Regions from separate parts of the Homo sapiens genome. Here region 2 is linked to region 1. Evidence: fine-mapped expression QTL. Tissue or cell type: lung. Region 1 holds a variant in brackets; the other region holds the start of a gene. All regions are shown on one strand. Distances are between the middles of the regions.

What was found. PIP is the estimated chance that this variant, and not a neighbour inherited with it, causes the effect.
Region 2: MAP3K6 starts here. The variant in region 1 is fine-mapped to the expression of MAP3K6 in lung (TOPMed, PIP 0.97).

The regions. Positions count from the first base shown.
Region 1 is chr1:27,548,137-27,556,236 of GRCh38, forward strand. AHDC1 (AT-hook DNA binding motif containing 1) reads right to left here. Exons shown (of 9, transcript NM_001371928.1): 6 at 4,938-5,049; 7 at 4,756-4,793; 8 at 1-4,053. The coding sequence starts at 3,979. Among named protein-coding and RNA genes, the nearest start is that of AHDC1, 52 kb to the right of the region's middle. RefSeq lists an enhancer at 7,279-7,834. The variant C/T (reference allele first, on the strand shown) is at 4,449.
Region 2 is chr1:27,362,954-27,371,053 of GRCh38, forward strand. MAP3K6 (mitogen-activated protein kinase kinase kinase 6) reads right to left here and starts at 4,008. Exons shown (of 29, transcript NM_004672.5): 1 at 3,305-4,008; 2 at 1,820-1,959; 3 at 1,708-1,731; 4 at 1,251-1,441; 5 at 964-1,132; 6 at 489-595; 7 at 1-68. The coding sequence starts at 3,644. FCN3 (ficolin 3) reads right to left here. Exons shown (of 8, transcript NM_003665.4): 6 at 7,890-8,019; 7 at 7,643-7,777; 8 at 6,157-6,524. The coding sequence ends at 6,283. RefSeq lists silencers at 2,597-2,666, 3,257-3,306, 3,377-3,596, 3,627-3,736 and enhancers at 2,989-3,932, 3,933-4,874.

The DNA.
Region 1 (8,100 bases):
GCAGTGGTGACATGCTGCTGTCCCCGCTATAGTAGTCCAGGCCGAGGTCAGGACTGTCCTGGAACAGTGGGTTGACTGGCTGTGGCTTGGGGATGAACTTGGCTTTGGCCGCTGCGCCACCCCGCTCCTTCTTGGCTGAGCAGGCCCCACCGCCCCGTCCACCTCGCGGCTGCCGGGGCCCAGTGCTCCGTTTGGATGGGTAGCCTGAGGCAGCGGCAGAGGCGGATGTCGGGAAGCCCAGATGTGAGGCCTCGAACAGGTCCACCTTCTTCCGCCGTCCACGGCCCGGCTTGGAGCTACTCTGAAAGAGGACACTCTGGTTCCAGTTGTAGCCGGGGGCAGATGATGCCTCGTTCCAGTCCATCATCAGTTTCTCCAGGCTGGACAGGCTCGACTGGCCCTCACTACTTGAGGCCTCGCTGTTGGCACGCCGAAACCCCCCGCCACCAACCGGCTGATTGAACTGGGTGCTGTCGGAGGATGACTCAGAGAAGGTCTCCGACACAGCCGTCTGCTGCTTCACCTTCTGCGGTGTGTAGTTGGAGATGTCCAGGATCACGTTGGGCTCGCTGACGTGGCAGTCAAAACTGGGATTGTAGAGCTGACTAAAGGCCTCTGAGGCCCAGTCCAGGCCTCCATAGCCCTGCCGGAAAGGCCACTGAGAAGCCCCCGCAAACTGCCGACAGTTCTCGGGCGAGGGCTGGAAGGAGGAGGAGGAGGAGGAGGCGGCAGAGGCTGCAGAGGTGGCAGAGGCTGTGGTGCCCTTGGGTACCATGTAGCCACCGGGCGAGACTGTGCTGGCCCGGCTGTCACAGCGCAGGGGCGTGGGGGCTGAACCAGAGAAGGGGGCCCCCTCAGAGCTGCTGAAGAAGGAGGCCTTGCTTGGTGGCAGGCAGGGGCCCCCGGTAGGCGGTGGGGCATAGCCGGCGCTGTGGGCGCTGCTGGGTGAGGCAGGGAGGCTGTTGCCACTGCCATAGGCGAAGCTGCAGTCCTTGCTGTTAGCGCAGTCCTGGCCTGTAAAGGGCTTAGTTGGGGCGAATACGCTTTGTCCGGCCCCATAGCCGCCGTACTGGGGCAGGTAGGTGTTGGCAGGCGGGTGGGTGGTAGGTGAGCGGGCCATGGCTGAGGGCGGGGGCACCAGCTTGGGGAAGGTCTCGGCTGCCCGGCAGTCTGAAGCGGCTGGAGTTAGCCCATAGCTTGCTGCTCGTCCTGGTGGGAAGGTCTGGCGCGCGGACAGGACAGGCTGAAAGGAGGGGTCCGCCCCAGCCCCGCTGCTACCCACTGCCACTGGGCTGGCCTTGGCTCCCCGGCTAGGGAAGGTGGCCAGGCCCCGCTGGGCAGGCAGGGCACTGGTGGGTGGCCCTGCATAGGTGCCCGATGCCTTCCGGGACTCTGGGCGAGAGGCTGAGAGGGCAAAGTCCAAGAGATCGGAGGAGTCATCCGAATCGAGCAGCGAGCGAAAGTAGCCGGTGAAGAGGTTTTGGCGCTCCTGGCTGAGCTCGGTCTGGCCTGAGGGTGCACCCGTGCTGTAGTAGCTGCCACGGCCTGAGGCTCCACTCTCCAGCCCAGTGGAGGCAAAGGCCCGGGCCTCGGTCCCCTGAAACCCACAGTTTCGGCCAGCTTGTCCGCCTGGGTGCCCATGGTGAGGGGCCCAGCCACCACCCTTATCCCCGGCCCACTCAGCACCTGCCTCCCCAAAGCCTGGGCCACTGGGCACCTGCTCTGGGAACAGAGTCCCATTCTTCCGGGACCGTCTCTTGCGCTTTGGCTTCCCAGTCACAGCGTCTACCTCCCCCCGGCCCCGTTTGCGTGGGTGCCCCAACTCAGTAAGGCCCGGGCCCCCGACCCCAGCGGCTGCCACGGCCACCACCTTCTTTTTCTTGCCGATGCCCTCAAAGAAGTCACTGAAGGAGCATCGGGCTGACTTGGCCGCATGGCCCCCACCCCGGCCACCAAAACCGCCTGCTTTGCCCCCACGCCGCCGGAAGCCCTGCACACGATGCAGGAAGTGGGAGATGCTCTGGGTGTCGGGGGCCTGGTGCACCGACTCCGGCTCACTGGGTGTCCAGCAGCGGGGCGGTGAGCACCGTCCAGCGCACTGGCTCTGGCGGTTCAGGAAGGCCAGCTTGGCCAGGACGTCTGAGTACTCGGCCTTGCTGTCGTTGGCGTCTGCTGCATAGGATGGCTGGGGAGATGCCAGCTTCTGCTTCCGCCGCCGTCGTTTTTTTACCTCTGGCATGGCCATGGTGGCCGCTGCCACAGTGGCTGCCTCGGCCGCCACCACAGCTGGCTCCTTGGGCTTGCCGGGACCCAGCAGCAGGTTCTTAGGAGGGCGGCCGCGCTTACGTTTGAGAATAATGGGCATCTCACCGGGTGGGAAGACCACTACCACGTTCCGCCCATTGTTCTTCATCTTCAGCAGCGGGGTGGGCTCAGCCGACACGCGCAGGCCCAGCTCCTTGCCCTCCACGCTCAGGCTGCTGCTCAAGGAAGACACTTTGTATGTGGTCTTGTTCCGCCGCCCCAGCGATACGGGGATCTTGGCCATCTTCACCACCATGCGCCGCACGCCCCGGCACTTGCCTTTGCGGGTAGAGACCACTGGGGTCTGGGAAGATTCCGGCTTCAACTCTGGGACTGAGACCGGGCCTGGGCCTGGCAGGGCAGGGGGTGGAGGAGGCGGTGGTGGTGGGGGTTCGGCCAGGGCAGCCACCAGCCCCGTGGGCATAGGCAGGGGCAGTAGGCGGCCCTCGGGTCCGGCGTCTGCCTTGCGTCCCCGTCCGGCTTTCCGCCGGCGACACAGGATCTTTGGCCTATCAGTGCGCCGCAAGGCGTACTTGGGGTGACCCTCAGGCCCGGGGGGGCCGTGCGGTGAGCACAAGTCCAGGCGCAAGGGCTCGGCCAGTGGGCAGTGCCCCAGGGGCTGCTGGGGCTCCAGACGGCGACCTGGGACGTCAAGCAGCTTGGGCAGGGGGTCGAGTGCCTGGGGGTCAAGCAGCTGCGACTCCAAGGAGTCAGGCAGGGTGTCCAGGGCCTGGAGAGCCAGGCCCGGCAGCCCCAGAGGATCAGCAAGAGGTTGCAGGGGTGGCAGCTCCAGAGCTTCCCCGAGCGGCTCTAGTGCCTGCGGGTCCAGGAAGCGGGGCTGGGGGTCCAGGAGCTGAGGCTCCGGCTCGGGCGATGGTGGCTCGAGGGCCTGGGCCTCTAGCAGCTGGGCCTCTGGGCAAGTGAGGGAGGCCAGCTCACTAAGGATGTCGGCGTCAGCAAGTTCTGAGTAATCAGTGCTGTCTGGCTCAGGCTCTGGGGGCAGACCCGTGGCCGCAGCCGTGGCTCCGGGACTATGGCCTTGGCCAGGCTGGGGACTGTCCCTAGGCTCAGGCTCAGGCTCGTAGAGGGGATGGCTGGGCCGCTCCGACTTGGCGTGTGGGGTGGCCCGCTCCTCAGGGCTACGGATGCTGTTGGCCAAACTGGGTGAGGAGAAGAAGCTGTACTGTAGGTCGCCGGGTGGCGGTGCAGGCGGGCGGCTCAGTCGGAGCCCACCACAGTCCAGGTGTACACCACTGTGCTGCAGGTCCTGGGAGAGGCGTGTCAGGTCCTTCATGATGTCAATCAGCTGCACCACTGGTCGCAGGTTCACCCGCCCGTTGTCCCAGCAGCGTCGGGAGCTGCTGCCGTCTCCGACCGGTGTGGGGCAGCGGGCCTGTGAGACAGGACGGGCTGCCCGTGGGGGCAGCGGGTCGTCCCCCTTGGCAAGGACTGGTGGGCGCCGGGTGCTGGGGTCCCGGCGTGGGGGTGGGCGTGGGTTCTCGGAGAAGGCGTGGGTGGAGAAGGCCTTGTCAGGTGGGCTGGCAGGGGGCCGGGTGGGAAGCAGGGGCCGGGGGGTGGGGGGGCCGCCGGGGTAGTACTTGGGTTCCCGGAGGTAGTCAGGAGAGCTGCACACGGCACTGGAAGTCACCACCAGGCCCTGGGGCTTCACACGCATCCTGACCTTGTCCTCCGCAGGCCGCCGGGCGGGGCCGGGGCTGACATGAGGGTGCGAGAAGCCGGGACCAGGACCTGCCAGGCAGGAAGAGCAGGAGGTCCCTTACTGAACACCTACATCCTCATCAGCTTCCCATATCCTTGATGAGCTCCTGGACCCCTCCCTCCTGAGGTCTCATCTCCTTACCAAGCTCCCCTCCCCACCCCAAGCCCCATCCCCTTGCTGACTCCCAGCCTTTCTCAAACCACCATGTGTATAGTGAGCCCCTCATGGGCCCAGTTTCACTTTTTTTTTTTTTTTTGGAAGAGAGTCTCACTCTGTCGCCCAGGCTAGAGTGAAGCAGCGTGATCTCAGCTCACTGCAACCTCCGCCTCCTAGTGCAAGCGATTCTCAGGTGTCAGCCTCCCAAGCACCTGGGATTACAGGCATGCGCCACCACACCTGGCTAATTTTTGTATTTTAGTAGAGA[C/T]GGGGTTTCACCAAGTTGGCCAGGCTGGTCTGGAGCTCCTGACCTCAGATGATCCACTTGCCTCAGCCTCCCAAAATACTGGGATTACAGGCGTGAGCCACCATGCCCGGCCCAGTTTCACTTATTGACAGCTCATCCCCTTTGGGAATCTGGCTATGCACTCAGGAAGAACAGGACCCCTGCCTTTGAGAGGGAAGCACATCAGCAGGGTGATCAAACTTAAGGAGAAGGCCAGGAAGTTCTAACAAGGGCACGGCCTCCCTCCTTCTTACCCCGAAAGGGCTCCAGGAGAACCCCCACCACTCACCCTCGGCTCTGCCGCCTGGGCTGTCACACTGGAGATCTCTGTGGGCAACAAGACGGGCAATAGATCTGAATTCCCCAAATGGTCTGGTGGCCACAGCTCAACCCCTGCCCACCGGCCCAGCCTCCTCCAGGTACCACCCCCGGCTCCCTCAGCGCTCTGTCCAGCGCAGACACCCGGCTGACCTGGAAGAGAGAGGGCCCCCGTGCCTGGGGGCTCTGCCAGTCGCTGGCTGTCAGCTGGGGGTGCTGTGGAGCAACTTCGGCCTGAGCCCAGGCCTCGGGGCGTGGACAGCGCCTGGAAAGGACCATCGCAGCTCAGGTTTAGTGAGCACCTACTGCGCGCCAGGTACTGGGCTGGAAGCTGTCCAGGCATCGTTTCATTTAATTCTTCATACCAATCCTGTGAGGTAGGGGCTATTAATAACCCCATTTTGCAGATGAAGAAATGGAGGCTCAGAGATAAAAGTAACATCATTCATTCATACACTCATTAGTTATAAAGTACCTACTTTGGACAAGGACTGGACAGACAGACACTGATCAGATCATTATAAATGACTTAATTACTAGTGGGATAAGAGCTGCAAAGAAAAAGTGAAGATGCCTGAGGTCAGAGCAATCACACCGGGAGTCAACAATAAAAGCCCATAGTTTGGGGACATTTTCTGTTGCCAAACACTGGGCCAAGCACTTTATATAGATTATCTCATCAAATTCCCCAGACAAACATGAGATCAATATGATTATCCTCCCCAGTCTTACAGAAACTACCCCCTGGAAGATGGTAAACACCATAAAAGCAAGGATATCTGTCCTATTCACCACTATATGTATTTCCCAACACTCAGAACAGCACATGGCCTACAGCAGCGCTTAAAAAAAAACAGCTGTTTGGCCAGGCGCAGGGGCTCACACCTGTAATCCCAGCACTTTGGGAGGCTGAGGCAGGAGGATCGCTTGAGTCCAGGAGTTCGAGACCAGCCTGGGTAACATAGCGTGACCTCGTCCCTACAAAAATTTAAAAATTAGCTGGGCATGGTGGTGCACACCTGTAGTCCCAGCTACTCAAGAGGCTGAGGTGGGAGGATCACTTGAGCCCAGGAGGTTGAGGCTGGCTGCTCTGAGCTATGATCGTGCCATTGTTCTCCAGCCTGGGCAGCAGAGTGAGATCCTTTCTCCAAAACATTAAATTAAAAAAGTTTGTTGCATGAATGAACGCACACAAATGAGGTACGCAAAGCAATCAACCCTGCCTTTTCCCTTGAGGCTCTTTCTTCTTCTCCAGACCCAAGAAGGATGCTGAGAGAGGGACCTAAGAATGTGAAAAGGGACATTCTCTGATCCTTCTTCCACCTTCATCGGAAAAACTCTGCTGCTCCATCCTACCTCTGGCCTTGTCCTGGCCCCTGCTACATCCTCTCAGAGCCCTATGTATTTCACCTTCATAGTATTCATTGCAACTATAATCAATTACTTGCGTGACTGGCTGTTTAGTGTGTCCCCCACAAGAGTGTGGGCTCTTCAGGAGCAGGGATCACATCTGTCTTGTTTATCGCTGTATCACCTGACCCTGGGGCCTGGGCTATGAATGCTACATAAATATTTACCGACTGACTCCCTGAGCTGGTCAGGGCAGAGCTGGGATTTAGATCCAGGCATGTCTGACTCCCAAAGAAGCCTGAGGACTCAGGGCCATGGCTGATCCCAGGAGCCGGGATCTCAGGGAGCAGGGAGCTGAATGGACCCCAACACTGTGAGGGTCTTAAAGACTGACCTTGTTCACTGCCTAATGTTTGGCTCTGACCTAGTACTGGATCCCTGGGACCTATGTGCCACAGACCCATGTAGATTCTCCCCACCTACCCATGCTGTCACCCCACAGGAAGACTGCAGAGCTGACTCGGGGACAGGATAAAGTAGAAAGAGACACTTCTCTACTCCCCTTTGGGGGACAGCGATTTGCAATCTACAAAGCACCTACACATCTGTGACCCACTGAATCCTCACAGCAGCCTGGGAGGCATGATTTATTATCCCCATGTTACAGGGGAAACTGGCTCAGAGTGTATGTGTAACTTGCCTGAAGTCACATAGCTGCTAAGAGGCAGGATTTCTAATTCTGCCTTAAGTCCAAAGCCTCCTTCCACTCCCAGCTCCTGTAACAATCCTTCAGCCACTTCTGAAAATGCTCCTTCTAGCGCCGTGGTCTAATTTAAGGCTGGGAGGAACCTTAAAATTATCTAACCCATTGGCTTCCAAAGCCTGGGCCTGGGGGAGCTGTGTAACATTCCAGATACCCAGGCCCTAGTCCAGGGGAATGTGACTCATAGATGTGAAGGGACATCTGGGAATCTGTATTTTTAACCAGCTACCCCAGTGGGGACACTTTCTAGTGCCATCTCATGCCCCTCCCATTTTACAGATGAGGAAACTGAGACTTGAAGAGGGAAAGAGACTTTGTCCGAGGTCACAAAATGGCACAGGAAGGGGCCCTTTGGTTGCCCACCCAGGTGGAACATCCCTCTATCCACTGTTCCTTCTCTCTCTGCAGGCTCCAGGACTCAGCTGCTCCTCGTTGTCCCACCTACTGGTCCCACCTACTTTGCTCTCTCCCAGGCCTGGCTGTGGACCTGGCCCCTCCCAGGTCAGGATCTCTCTAGTCCAAGAACTTGGAGCACTGTTGCCCTCACAGGGAGGACAGTGGGTGACACCCTCACAAACGAGAAAAGGGGCTCAGACTCTGGAACCTCCAAGTCCAATTTCCAACAGTGTGGTTGGGCCGTGGCTCCTGGCACCCACTTGGAGATGCCCACCAGAAGCCCCCTCCCTCCCTCCCTTACTGAGGGTCAGGCTAGCCGAGCCTTCCCCGCCCTGGAGACCTCCCAGCTGGGGCCTGAGGGTGTGATCTTGGCAGAAGAGAAAAACCTCCTCTCCGGTGGTGGCTTCTGTTCAACCCACCCGTGAAGACCTCTGGGCACGTCCTCCTGCCAGGCCTCCTGAGGCTGGCCACTGCTCTCTTTTGCAGCCTCCAGGATCTGAGGGAAACAGCTGGCTCCCCTCCTCACCACACCCCGGCGGCCATTCTCTTGGACCCCTCCCAAGGGTACCACCTAGCCCTGGTCTGTGGACAAAGTCAAAGGGGTACTTCTGTCTGCCTGTCTGCTGTTGGGTCAGTGTGTCTGAGCTTGCCCATAGGGACACCAGCTGGTTGGGAGGGGGCTGGGGGCCCCAACCTGCTGTGCACAGTGCCGGGAAGCGCCAGCCCACATCCTTGAGTCCCCAGCCCCACCCTCCCCGGCTGTGGCTGTGACCACCCCACCCCTTCCCCAGCCCTCCTTCCCCTCCC
Region 2 (8,100 bases), 190 kb before region 1:
AGCCCTCAAGCTGTACCAGCGGCAGCAGCACAGACAGGGCCTTCGCCCGGTCCCCAGGCCTGTTCCTCCTAGGGAAAAGATGGGCTCAGGCCCTCCCTGATGGCCCTGGCCTACTCTGTCCAGGGACCTCTAGACACTGAACCAGCAGGGACCCTTCCAGGGGCCTGACAATAATGACCTCAAAATGATAATGACCCTGGCCAGCACTGACCTCTCTAGTGACCTCAGATGGAAGTGATTCCTAGATGCGATGACTCTTAGGAGCAGTGATCTTGGACAGCGGTGACCATACCACAGGCAGCACCACCTCCCCCACCCCGACCCAGGCAGCAGTAACTCAGAACAACAGGGACCTATTGACATCAGTGACCCCGGTCAGCAAATTCCCCGAACAGCAGTGATCCCAGACAGCAATGGCTTTGCACGCAGAGACCTAGGTTTCGGAAACCTTTATGTGGCTATGACCTAACCCTTGCTCTGCCACTCACCGGTTGAGGGCAAAAGTGTAGTGGAAGCAGACATTATGCTGCTCGGCCACATCACAGGTGGGCAAGGCCTGCAGCGTCTCCACCAGCTCAATGATGGCCGAGTAGTCCTGCATCAGGGAACGGCAAGCACTGGCATCATGGGCCTCCAGGCCCCAAGGAACCTTGAGCCAGGGTCCTGTCCCACTCCTGACATCCCACCCAGCCACCATCTTCTGCACGCCTCCCTCAGGCCCAGCGGACACACCTCACAGGGAGAACCTACTGTATGCCCCATGCTGGGCGTTCCCAACCCCACAACTGCCCCAGGAGGCAGCGACATGCTCATCCTCTCTAACAAATAAGGAGGCCAACACTCAGAGACATTGGATAATTTGCCCAAAGCCACCAGTGAGCAAGTGGCCCAGCCAGGAACTGAACTTGGGTTTGTCTGACCTCAAATGCCAGCTGCCCTACTGCCTCTCTGAACACCACGCACCTGCACATCGCGGTAGGAGAGCAGCAAGTTCATGATGATGTCGGGGCTCAGCAGCTCCACGCTGTCCAGTCTCCGCTGCAGGCGAGCCAGCTCCTGCCGCAGCTGTGGCCCACTGAACCGCTCCCGCGCCTGCCGGATGTCCCGCCGAATGGTCTCCCGGAAATAGCCACTGATGCCCAGGGTAGGGGAGGCAGGGAGAGAGAATGGTGGGGCCTGTACCTCAGCCCCAGCCCACCATACCCTCACCAGCCCCCTCCTGGAGCACCCTCCCTGGGGGCCTTCATTACCAAGAGTCTGTGGGTGTGGCCTCCAGCAGGCGGGCAAGCCGGCCCACCAGGGGAGTGAGCAGGGCCTCGGTCCCCACTCCAGCCTGTACCAGCCCATCAGCCAGGCCCCGCAGAAGGCCTGCATCACCACACAGCACCCGACCAGTGGCCGTCACCACATAGGGGATCAGTGTGTAGCTGCCAACGCAATCCTGGTGGGAGGGAGGCAGGAATCAGTGAGGTCAGAGGTCAGCACAGGGCTAGACAAGGGGAGTGAGAGCATCAAAGGTCAGCATCAGTGGGAATTGGAATCGCAGGAAAGGGGCACCCGTCATGAGAGGAGGCAACAGGAAACAGAGGAATACTTGGGATGTCAGTGGGGGGTTAGGTGACTGAGGAGGCCAGGGGGATTAGTGGAGGTCAGAGGTCATAGCGGAAGTCAAAGGGCACTTTTGAGTGAGAGGTGGATTCTGCTCACCGAGTTCTTCTGGAAAACATCCTCCTGCAGGAGGCAGACAGTCAGATACTGGTGTTCTGTGTAGGCCTTACCCCAGCCCTGTGCCTGCCTCCACCAGCCCCAGGCCACCTACCCGCAGGGCCTGCAGGTCAGGGAGGTCGGCCTGGGAGCAGAGGAGCACATTGTTGGTCATGCTGAAGCTCTCACGCACACCAAGGTGGTAGAACAGGGAGGGCTGTACCAGCGAGCTGCTCACCTCCAGCACCACCACATCTGCAGGCACAGAGGGGGTGGCGCTGATCCCTGAAGCCCAGCTTGATGGGGAAGGAGCCGGGGTCCATCCTGGCTTGACCTGCCTTGCTGTGGGACTCCAGTAGGGTCTGGTTCTGCTTTGGGCTTCAGTCGGCCCTTTTTAGGGTTCCCCTGGCACTTTCACAGAACTGATCTCTGTAGTGTTGCAGGAGAGGAGTTGGGCTCACTGGGTTGGGACCCTCAGGCCACGGTTCAGAGCCTGTGAGCACCTGGCATGGGGGAAGGGAGGCTGTGGACCAGTTGAGTCTGTTACGGGCCATTTAGGAGGTGGGAGTTGCGCAAACATAGAAGTCCCCTCCCTTTGGTCTTCAGCACAGGCTCTTGAAAGGGGCTACCATCAGTGTGCATAGACAACGCTGTGCCTAAATGTATGTATGTGTATATCTGTGACATGTATAGCTTACTATGTCTGACTGTATCTGTGTGTGTGACAGCGTCTGCTAGGGCCTGCATGAGTCAACATGTATGCGATTTGTGTCTGTCGATAATTGTATCTTTGTGTCCGAGTGGTCGGGTCAGCCTTCATTTTAGGCTACGATTTCATGGACATCCAGGAAGCACAGCTACTGGACTCTAGCATAAGCAAGTAAGTATGGGGGCCGAGCATCCGGGCTGGCTGGAGGGAGGAGTGACTCGCGGGGGAATAGCCTCCTTCTGGCCCCGCCCCTGAGCCATCCTTTCCCGCCCACTTCCCCGCCCCTTCCCCGCCCATTCTTTCTGGGCCGCTGAGGCCACTTAACCTAAGCTCCCTCACCCAGTATCCAGTCCCGTCGGGCCCCTTCGCTTCTCTTTTTGCCTCTCCTAGCCCGATCCTTGGAAATAGTATGCTAGGACTCCTGAACTCCAGCCTCCCGGCCCCTTTCCCTAAGTCCAAGCTCCTCTCCCAGTAATTGTCCTCAAGAGATCCGCGTGACATTCTCCTGAGGGTGAGGCTGAGTTCTCCAACCCCACCCCTGAGACACCACAGCCCCGCGCCGCTCCCCGCCCCGCCCCAGAGTTCCAAAGCCCCTCCCCATCCTTGCCCCGCTGGCTGGGCACCGCTCCGACTGAAGGGTGCCTAAGCCCCAACCTCGAGCCCTAGAGCCGCGCCCGGATCCCTGTCTCGTCCCGAGCCCGGCCGCGCCCCAGATCCCCTAAATCCCACTTTTTTCACGGCCCTGTCCCAAGCCCTTCAGCTTTAGCTCACTTTAAGTCCCCTAGACCCGGTACCCCTCTCGGCCCCTCCCTTGAGCCTTCGAGCCCGGCTTGGTCCCCTCCCAGGACCCTGAGTCCCGCCCGGATCCGGCCCCGCCCCCAGCGCTCTCACCCGCGTTGTAGAAGGCATCCAGAGCCGCGGTGTCGCCTAGCTCCAGCGTCCCGAAGGGCAGGCTGCGCAGCTGCGGGGGCGGCCGCGGCCGGGGGACCTGCGCGCAAGCCTCGCGCAGGCAGCGCAGGGGCAGCGGCTCCGCCTCGGTTCCCTCCCGAGGCTCGAGCCCGGGCTGCGGCTCCCGGGTCAGCACGTAGACCACGCTGAGCGGCCGGCTCCGCGCGCAGCCCCGGCCCGGGGGCGCCGCGAGCTGCCGGCCCCGGCTCAGCGCCACGGCCAGCGGGTCCTGCCAGCAGCTGCCGGCGCGCTCCGCCCCGGACCGGGGACACGGCCCCGCCATGCGGGGGCGCTCAGGCGCGGGGCGCCGCGCACTGGGAACCGGGGGCGGGGCAGGAGCCTGGGCCGGCAGATCAGGAATCTTGGGATCTGGAATCCGTTCGGAATCGGAGAATCTCCCACGGGATCTAGGGATCCGGAATACGGCCTGACGTCCCGTTCCAGGAATCTAAAGTCCAGGGAGAAATCCTAGCTCGGACTTGCAAGGTCCTGAGGTTCTGAAATCCGGGATTGGGTCCCAGGAATCTGGGGCATCCGGTGATCGGCAGCTCAGAGCCACTTGGGGGATCCTGGGAATCGGCTCGGAGGTGCCCGCCACCTGGACTTCTCAAGGGAGCGCCCGCCAACGCTGCCCTGCCTTCACTTGTAGGCTAAGCCCAGCCCTTTCCCGGCCGACCCAGAAAGCTCCACCCTCGGCCCTGGGGCAGAGCCGCTCCCTAGCGGCTTGAGACTCAGCCTCTCCCCTCCCTTCTCTCCCGCCAGAACTTTGGAGACTGGCGGCTTCCGGAACAGCCTGTGCCCCTGTGCACGCCAAAGACTGTGGACTGCTCACAGCAAGTGCACATAAAATGTGTGAGGAGGCCAGGGCTAGGGAAAAGGTTCGATATGCAGGCCCTGCTCTGCAGGTATCTGTTGAATGAATGGCTCTCTAGAGACATCAGGGTGCGCAGAGCATGATGAACAATGGGTGTCCTCCCGGGCCCAGTGAGCGCAGGCAGGGAGGGACTGGGATGGGGGAAACCTACACCCTAGGCCGCTTGCCCGAAAGCCTTCAGTCCTGGAGTGGGACTTGGCATCTGAGCCTTAACTGTCACTAGGGGGCTGCTTTCCCCAGGACCCAACCTGCTGTGGACCCCCGCTGACCTTTGACTTCTAGGCAGAACGTGGCCATGGGACCTGAGAAGCACTTCCTACTCTAAACAACTCTAAACATTTCTTTAGCCACCCCTTGAAGGAGTCAACCCCAGCCCTTTGCACTACAGCAGCTTCTCAGCTTCAAATCCCCAAGAGTCCCCAACTTTCTTGTGTGAATTAATGAGTGAGGCAGCAACCTGGTAGAAGCCTCAGTGGACCCTGAAACCAAGAACTGGGGACTTAAGTTGAATAACTTGTCCAGGATCACTCAGCACATGACAGCAGGGTGCAAACCCAGGACCGCCTGTCAGACTCTTAACTATTTAATTCTGCCACTTACTAGAATGTGGCTTTGGGCAAATAAACTGCTTAAATGCTACTCAATGGCTGTTTCATTGCCCTGTTGCCTTGTGGAAGAAAAAGGTACCTTCCTTGGTTTGACCTTGGATTCGAACTGACACCCAATGAGATAGGCAGGAAGTGGTAGAGTTTGAGAACTTGGCCTGCAACAGAGGCTGGAGTGGAAAACAGACAACTTACAAAGGACAGGCATGGGCAACCGACAGGCTGAGAAAGCTGTGCAATTCCCAGCCAGGGCGGTGGCTCATGCCTGTAATCCCACTTTGGGAGGCCAAGATGAGTGGATCACGAGGTCAGGAGTTCGAGACCAGCCTGGCCAACATGGTGAAACCCCGTCTCTACTAAAAATACAAAAAAAAGTAGCTGGGTGTGGTGGCACCTGCCTGTGATCCCAGCTACTTGGGAGCTGAGGCAGGAGAATCACTTGAACCTGGGAGATGGAGGTTGCGGTGAGTGGAGATCGTGCCATTGCACTCCAGCCTGGGCGGGGCGACAGAGCAAGACTCCATCTCAAAAAAAAAAAAAGCTATGCAATTGTGCAATTCCTGCCACAAAGCCATCCACTTGCAGGACCCAGAGGGCCTCGGGAAATTGTCAATGGATGCTTGGATCTCCTCTAATCCTTCCACTGTATGCCCCTCTGGCTCATTGCACTCCAGCCTGGGCAGGGCGACAGAGCAAGACTCCATCTCAAAAAAAAAAAAAAAAAAAAAGCGGCCGGGCGCAGTGGCTCACACCTGTAATCCCAGCACTTTGGGAGGCCGAGGAGGGCAGATCATGAGGTCAGGAGATTGAGACCATCCTGGCTAACATGATGAAACCCCGTCTCTACTAAAAATACAAAAAATTCGCCGGGCGTGGTAACGGGTGCCTGTAGTTCCAGCTACTCGGGAGGCTGAGGCAGGAGAATGGCGTGAACCTGGGAGGCAGAGCTTGCAGTGAGCCAGGATGGTGCCACTGCACTCCAGCCTGGGCGACAGAGCGAGACTGCGTCTCAAAAACAAACAAACAAACAAACAAACAAAAAAGCTGTGCAATTGTGCAATTCCTGCCACAAAGCCATCCACTTGCAGGACCCAGAGAGCCTCAGGAAATTGTCAATGGATGCTTGAATCTCCTCCAGTCCTTCCACTATATGCCCCTCTGGCCTTGTCTTGCACACCTCCAGAGACAGAAGCCTCACTACTTTAGAGGCTGTCCTTTCCATCTTCCTGACTGGAAGGAAATTCTTCCCTGAATGGAGCTGAAACTTGTGTCCCTGCTCTGCCCTCTAGGGTTTTTTCCCAGTAACTGGAAGAGTCTTGAAAGGGCTAAAATGATTTTATTTTTAAATGTGGACAGGCAAGCAGAGGTGGTTGGCAAAGGCAAGGTGGCTGACGATCCGGAAGCTGTACAGGAGAGATAAGGGCACTGGCTGCCAGAGTGCCCTATCGAAGCATCATCCGAACCCTGCGGTAGGGGTGGCCCACACCACGGCCTGAGGCCCAGTCAATGCCATATTTGTGGGCGGCAGCCTCAGACACTGCATAGCGACCATTGAGATTTGATCGGTAACAGGATGCATACCACCAGGCACCGTGGACAATCACTGCACAGTTGCTGTTGCTTGAATCGTGGTCAGCGTCATAGGTGGTAAAGGGCCTCCCACTGTGGAGGCTCAGGGAATCCCCTAGCAGGGAAGGGATGGAAAGCACCTTGGTGCCCAGCACCACGCCTGGCACCTTTGGAGATATAATGCCATGGGAGTCTCAGAGCAACTAAGAGTTGAATTTTATCAGGCCCCACGAGCAACACCAAGGGGCCAGGTTGTTTGCGCAGGGTTACTCGGCTGGTTGAAGCAGCGGCAGGACTTGAACTCGGGACTGTCTGGCTCCAAAGCTCCCAGCTTTTCCCCCTGTCTTACCCCCTCCAGAATCCCCGGCCCCCCTCTAGCTCCTTTGTCTTCTCTCAGCTCCCATCCAGTCTGAGCAACTCTGCTAGGAAAAGCTGGGAGGAACCTCTTAGGTGCCTGGCCAGGAAAGGTGGTTCCCTGAGGCACTCCCTCATAACCACTTCCCTCTTTTAAATCTCTCCCCAATAGTCACTGTTTCTCTGAAAGAAGACTTCCGTGGTTCCTCTTCCAAAGCAGAGAACACTAACACTCAACAGAGCCTCAGGCGGCACCCAAAACTTCCTCCTTGCCTCCCTGCGCTCCCCCCGCCTTTTTTTTTTTTTCTGAGATGGAGTCTCGCTCTGTCGCCCAGGCTAGAGTGCAGTGACACTCTCTTGGCTCGCTGCAACCTCTGCCTCCCAGATTTAAGTGATTCTCCTGCCTCAGCCTCCCGAGTAGCTGGGATTACAGGCACCCTCCACCACGCCCGGCTAATTTTTTTGTATTTTTAGTAGAGACGGGGTTTCACCATGTTGGCCAGGTTGGGTTTGAACTCCTGACCTCAAGTTATCTGCCCGCCTCGGCCTCCCAGAGTGCTAGGGTTACAGGCATGAGCCACCGTGCCCGGCCTCCCTGCCCATTTTATAGAGGAGGAAACTGAGGCTCAGTGGAGGGGTAGGACTTGCCCAAGGTCACATAAGTACTAAATGGCAGAGATGGATTCAAACTCAGGTCTGTTTGCCTCCAGATCCCAAATTCTTCACTGTTGCACCATCCTGTTTCATGATTGCCATTTCTCAGATGCGGAAACTAAGGCCCACAGAGGAGACAGGATTGCCCTGGGTCATTCATGGGGGCAGTGGCAGCACTGGGAAAGGATCCAGCCTCCTTCCTCTGCTCCCCTTAGGCTCACTCACCTGCAGTGCCCTCTGAGAACTTGCCCAGTGCCAGCTGGTAGTGGTCTACCTCACCGAGGAGGCGGAAGGTCGCATAGTGGGCGAAAGTACGGTTACCATTAAAGTCTTCCAGCTCTACCCGCAGCTCCCAGTTACCTGGAAAGAAGGGGAGGCAGGGATGGAGGAATCCTCAGTTCTTGGGGGTGGGGCAGGGATTCAGGATGGCAGACAGTAACCCCCAGACTCCAGGACCCTGCTGGGAACTCACCCTGGAGAGTAAGCTGGTGCAAATTCTCATTTCCCAGCCAGAATTCAGACTCTTGGTTCCCAAAACCTGCTCTGTAGGAGGACCAAGAGCGGAAGAAATCCACAGAACCATCCTGGCGCCTCTGAAACACCTGGGGGAGGGGGGGCACAGCAGCTATTACTCCAGGCTGGGCACTGGCAGCTGAGGGTGCAGGAACTGTGAGGGGTGGGTG